Linked DNA regions of Homo sapiens: region 1 is linked to region 2. Evidence: fine-mapped expression QTL. A gene starts in region 2. The other region holds a variant in brackets. All regions are shown on one strand. Distances are from middle to middle.

Evidence for each region. PIP is the estimated chance that this variant, and not a neighbour inherited with it, causes the effect.
Region 1: its variant is the best candidate, but not a certain one, in a credible set for the expression of CNPY3 in whole blood (TOPMed, PIP 0.83).

The regions. Positions count from the first base shown.
Region 1 is chr6:42,949,788-42,952,693 of GRCh38, reverse strand. All of the region lies in intron 1 of CNPY3-GNMT (CNPY3-GNMT readthrough), which reads right to left. Among named protein-coding and RNA genes, the nearest start is that of GNMT, 9.5 kb to the left of the region's middle. The variant T/C (reference allele first, on the strand shown) is at 1,189.
Region 2 is chr6:42,927,996-42,930,901 of GRCh38, reverse strand. It overlaps CNPY3 (canopy FGF signaling regulator 3), which reads right to left and starts at 1,422. Exons shown (of 6, transcript NM_006586.5): 1 at 1,181-1,422. The coding sequence starts at 1,331. It overlaps CNPY3-GNMT (CNPY3-GNMT readthrough), which reads right to left and starts at 1,422. Exons shown (of 5, transcript NR_134892.2): 1 at 1,181-1,422. RefSeq lists enhancers at 704-813, 1,124-1,383, 1,026-1,527, 1,834-1,883, 1,894-1,943 and 1 more.

The DNA.
Region 1 (2,906 bases), 22 kb before region 2:
CCTAACCAAAAAGGGTAATTTTTTAAACAAAATTATGGAAGGCCATTGTTTTGGACTAGGCTCATGCACTAGGCCTCAACAAACCAAACCAAAATGGAGTCGCTCATGCTAGGACTTTAAGGAAACACATAGATTCTAAAACAGACCAAGTTTTTTTTCTCCTGCAAATCTCTATGACAAACCTTTCTTTTTTTTTTTTTCTGAGACGGAGTCTCACTCCCTCGCCCCCAGACTGGAGTGCAGTGGCTCAATCTCAGCTTATTGCAACCTCCACCTCCCAGGTTCAAGCAACATTCCTGCCTCAGCCTCCTGAGTAGCTAGGATTACAGGCATGCACCACCCCGCCCGGCTAATTTTTTTGTATTTAGTAGAGACAGGGTTTCACTATGTTGGCCAGGCTGATCCTGAACTCCTGACCTCGTGATCTGCCTGCCTCGGCCTCCCAAAGTGCTGGGATTACAGACGTAAGCCACTGCGCCTGGTCAATATAACAAACATTTCTAACAGCATAGGTATCCACCCCCTGCAGTTCCCATTAAATGTTTTAACCAAATTCATTTCCTCTTGCCTAGAGACCATCAAGCTTCAGCTGATCATGCAACAAAGCTTCCAGCCAGTTCCAGGTGAAGACATCACCCCTGGCCATCAAAAAGCTACCCTGCCTCCACTAGACAGAGCAGGGTGAGAGTTCCATGATCCCTAATAGGTGGGGACCATCCCCCAAGCCAGCATGAAGCAGTTACAGAAAAAAGACCATCTGTCCCTCTGCCTCCCATAAAGATTTATGGGGATCACATCTCAGGGGGCAGATGAGGCAGGAAAATAGGGTCTGGAGGCAGGTAACATAAGGCCAATTCACACTTCATCTATAACAGGAAATATCCTCTCCTTAGGGCATACATCATTAATAACTTTGCAATTGTAACTTTACTTCATCTTCTTCATTTACATAGGGCATTCCCCAAGTAGAGGGTATTTAAACTCACAAACATTTTTAACAGGGCCTTTGAGCCCCTATGCTCATTCTCGCTCCCACACTGTGGAGTGTACTTTCATTGTCTTTTTTTTTTTTTTTTTTTTTGGGATGGAGTCTCGCTCTGTCGCCCAGGCTGGAGTGCAGTGGCGCAATCTTGGCTCACTGCAACCTCCACCTCCTGGGTTCACACCATTCTGCCTCAGTCTCCCAAG[T/C]AGCTGGGACTACAGGTGCCCACCACCACGCCTGGCTAATTTTTTTGTATTTTTAGTAGAGATGGGGTTTCACCGTGTTAGCCAGGATGGTCTCAATCTCCTGATCTTGTGATCGGCCCGCCTCAGCCTCCCAAAGTGCTGGGATTACAGGCGTGAGCCACCGCGCCCGGCTCATTTTCAATAAAACCCTTCATTCCTTCCTTGTTTGTGCATTTTGTCCAATTGTTCGTTCAAGATGCCAAGAACCTGGACACCCTCCACCATTAACACATGGACAAAGTCCAGGGCCGGGAATGGGGGTGCTTGGTGTCCTTGCTATTCTTTATTTTTTTTTGAGATGGAGTTTCGCTCTTGTTGCCCAGGCTGGAGTGCAATGGCACGATCTTGGCTCACTGCAAACTCCACCTCCTGGGTTCAGGCGATTCTCCTGCCTCAGCCTCCCAAGTAGCTGGGATTACAGGCATGCACCACCACACCCAGCTAATTTTTTTGTATCTGATCCTACAGATGCATCTTTGGCAACAGGTTTAGAAAGCCTGGATTGGGGCCGGGCATGGTGGCTTATGCCTGTAATCCCAGCATTTTGGGAGGCTGAGGCGGACGGATCACCTGAGGTCAGGAGTTTGAGACCAGCCTGGCCAACATGGTGAAACATCATCTCTACTAAAAAATACAAAAATTAGCTGGGCGTGGTAGCAGGCACCTGTAATCCTAGCTACTCAGAAGGCTAAGGCAGGGAGATTTGCTTGAACCTGGGAAGCAGAGGTTGCAGTGAGCTGAGATTGTGCCACCGCACTCCAGCCTAGGTGACAGAGTGAGACTTTGTCTAAAAAAAAAAAAAAAAAGCCTGAATTGGAGAATTATAAGTAAATCCACTCTTTATTTTACAGAATATTCTGGGGAAAATTTACTCCACTACCCTTAGATTTTTTTTTTTTTTAATCTCATGTTAATTATCTTGTCTGGGCATGGTGGCTCATACCTGTAATCCCAGCACTTTGGGAGGCCGAGGGGGGCAGATCACTTGAGGTCAAGAGTTCCAGACCACCCTGGCCAACATGGCAAAGCCCTATCTCTACTAAAAATACAAAAAAATTAGCCGGGCGTGGTGGCACGCGGCTGTAGTCCCAGCTACTTGGGAGGGTGTGGCACAAGAATCACTTGAACCGAGGCGGCAGAGGTTGCAGTGAGCTGAGATCAAGCCACTGCACTGCAGCCTGGGTGACAGAGTAAGATTCCGTCAAGTGATTCTCCTGCCTCAGCCTCCTAAGTAGCTGGGATTACAGGCATGCGCCAACACACCCAGCTAATTTTTTTGTATTTTCAGTAGAGATGGCGTTTCACCATGTTGGCCAGGCTGGTCTCGAACTCCTGACCTCGTGATCCGCCTGCCTCGCTTCCCAAAGTGCTAGGATTACAGGCTTGAGCCACCTTGCCCGGCCTTAAAAATGCATGCTTGGTCAGGAGCGGTGGCTGAGACCTGTAATCCCAGCACTTTTGGGGGCCGAGGTGGGCAGATCACTTGAGGTCAGGAGTTGGAGACCAGCCTGGCCAACATGGTGAAACCCTGTCTCTATTGAAAAGACAAAAATTAGCTGGGCGTGGTGGCAGGCGCCTGTAATCCCAACTACTTGGGAGGCTGAGGCAGGAGAATCGCTTGAACCCAGGAGGCAGAGGCTGCAGTGAGCCGAGATTGTGCCACTGTACTCCAGCCTGGA
Region 2 (2,906 bases):
AAAAAAGGAAAAAAAGAAAAGAATGTACGGGGGAAGGCACAGGCTTGAACTCATACTGGGTGCCCTACCAGTGAAGTCGGCTTATCTCTAAAGCATCCTTTTAATCTCTCTAATGGAAGGATTATGTGTCCGAAACTTACCCCAAACCCACTTTCCAGTGTTTAGGGAACATCTGGCCTGATGTAGGCTTTCAATTCAGATGAGAGATTCACAGCCAACTTTCTGGGGGCCCTGGGGTTACGGGGCTAGGAAGGCAGGCATGACTGTAAGGTCTGAGGAGAAAACTAAGGGACGGAGTTGAGGAAAAAGAAATAGGTCCTTTATAGTCCTGGCTCGCTGGTAGCTCCCTCTCTCTCTCTCTCTGTAGTTCCTCAACGCCTATGTCTTTGGGACTCACCTTTTCTCCAAAGTCCTAAAATCTTCTTTCAAGTTCCCCATAGGCTCTATTGTTCCCCCAAAGGGCTCCTCAGATCCAGATCCTCCTCCTCACACACACCCACAGTCTCCCATTTAATCATCTGTATTCTCAAAACATTTATTGAGTGCCTACCAGACACTGTGTGAATACGTATCTAAGACAAAAATTCCTGCCTTCGAGGAGTTGTTAGTGGGTGCAACAGACAACTACACAGATTGGGTTGCAGTGAGGGCAAAAGGGGAAAGTCTTAGGTTTTTTTCCCCCAAGATGAGTCATCTGGAGCTTTTCAGTTCCTCAAACTCGTTCTTAGCTTCTCAGCCGGCAGGCCTCTGCCTCTGTAGTTTCCTGAGTGGGCCCCTCTCTTTCCACTTCTCTTCATCCGGCTAACTCCTAATGCCTCTTCGTGCTTCCTGTATGAAGCCCTCTTTGACTCCCCTCTGCACACAGCCTTCGCCCACCCCCTCCCCCACTCCAGGCTAGACCAGATGCTCCTCGTCCGGCCCCCAAAAGGAAGCTCTGTACCTCCCCTATCATGGCATCTACTACTCTGAATTATCATTGCTTGTTTCTACCAATGTGTGAACTCCAGGGGTACCGGGACCAGATCTCTCGTCCGCCGCAGCGTCCCGGCGCAAGCCTGTTCAAGGAAGGAAGACACCCTGCAGAGCTCGGAACCTTGCAACCCCCGACGCTGCTCCGCAAGCACCACCGCTGGAGCCAGCCCCTCCGGCAGGATACGCCCCACGGGCCCCGCCTCCTCACCTTCGCATTTGCTGGGCAGGCGAACCCAGTCGTTCTCCTCAGCTCCGGCCTGGCTCGGGCCCAGCTCCGGGGCCGGCAGCAGCAGCAGCAGCAGCAGCAGCAAGGGAAGAAGCAGAAGACAGCGGGACGCGGGCTCAGGCATTGAATCCATGGCCCGGCCGGGCCCGGACCCTAAAGGACCGGGCGGTTCCTCCTCCCGCGGCGCGCGCGGAGCAGTTTCCCCTCGCCGCTTCCGGGACTGCACACGTGCCTCCGAGCAACCACGACAACAGCTAGCCTCCCGCCCGCCCTCCTCTCGCAGCCGCAGCCCGCCTTCAAAGCGGACCAAGGCCCGCGGACGGCGCAGCCAATAGGCTTTCTGGGGTTTGCTCTCTAGCTAATGGGAAGACTATCTTTTTACGCCCTTGGCCAGTAAGAGAGCAGATGGTGGCCTCAGCGACCTATGGCAAAGTCCTTTCCCACCCCCTAACGGAGGCTCTGGGAGAGAGAGGATGCAGGACCAAGACCCGAGAAGAAGCCTGCGTCTGGGCCTGGGTGGGACGGATTCAGGCGCGCAGGTGCTGGAAGATGTGGGGAAGGCCGTCTTCGCGGCTTTCTCCGCCTCCTCGAACGTCACTTCCCTCCTGGGGTCCTAATGCCGCAAGTCCTTACTGAACATCTGTTTTTAAATTTTATTATTGGTATTGTGGTTGTTATAGCCGGGCACTCTTGTAGGCGCTTAAGGTGCAAGCAGGACGACTCAAACTGTCCCCAGCCTTCACACTTTTTTAGTAGCCAGTAGATTTGTCCTAGTGAGAACTAGAACAAATGACTTCCTCTCTGAGCCTGTTTCTATTTGTATGACGACAAAGTGATCCTCCTAGCTGCTGTGGGAGCTTGCCTGTTGTTGGGAAGCTCAAATAGGTTAATAGAATTAAAGCTTATCGAGCAGATTGTAAAAAGTTCAGGCATTAATTTTCTTTTTGTATGTAATCCCAGCCCCTTTTACTGCCCTATTATTTATTTCTTGATTCTGAGCTCTCAGAAGGCAGAAATTTAGCCGATTAACGATTGTCTCTCCCTTCCGCTTCCCCAGCAACAACAGGGTGCCTGGCACAAGGAGATACTCAGTAAAACTCTCATCTGCTGTGTCATTAAGGGGAACACTTAATGGCTCACGCCTGTAATCCCAGCACTTTGGGAGGCCGAGGCGGAAGGATCACCTGAGCCCAGGAGTTGGAGACCAGCCTGGGCAACAGATTGAGACCCTGTCTCAACAAAGAAGAAGAAGAAGAAAAAGGCCAGGCGCCGTGGCTAATGTCTGTAATCCCAGCACTTTGGGAGGCCAAGAAGGGAGAACTGCTTGAGGCCAGGAGTTCGAGACCAGCCTGGTCAACATAGCGAGACACCCCCCCCATCTCAAAAATAAATAAATCAAAATAAAAAATAAAGAGGAGGCCGGGCTTGGTGGCTCACGCCTATAATTCCAGCACTTTGGAAGGCCGAGGTAGGTGGATCACGAGGTCAGGAGTTCAAGACCAGCCTGGCCAAGATGCTGAAACCCCATCTCTACTAAAGATACAAAAAGTTAGCCGGGCGTGGTGGCACACGCCTGTAATCCCAGCTACTCGGGAGGTGGAGGCAGGAGAATTGCTTGAACCTGGGAGATGGAGGTTGCAGTGAGCCGAGATCACGCCATTGCACTCCAGCCTGGGCGACAGGGCAAGACTCCATCTCAAAAATAATA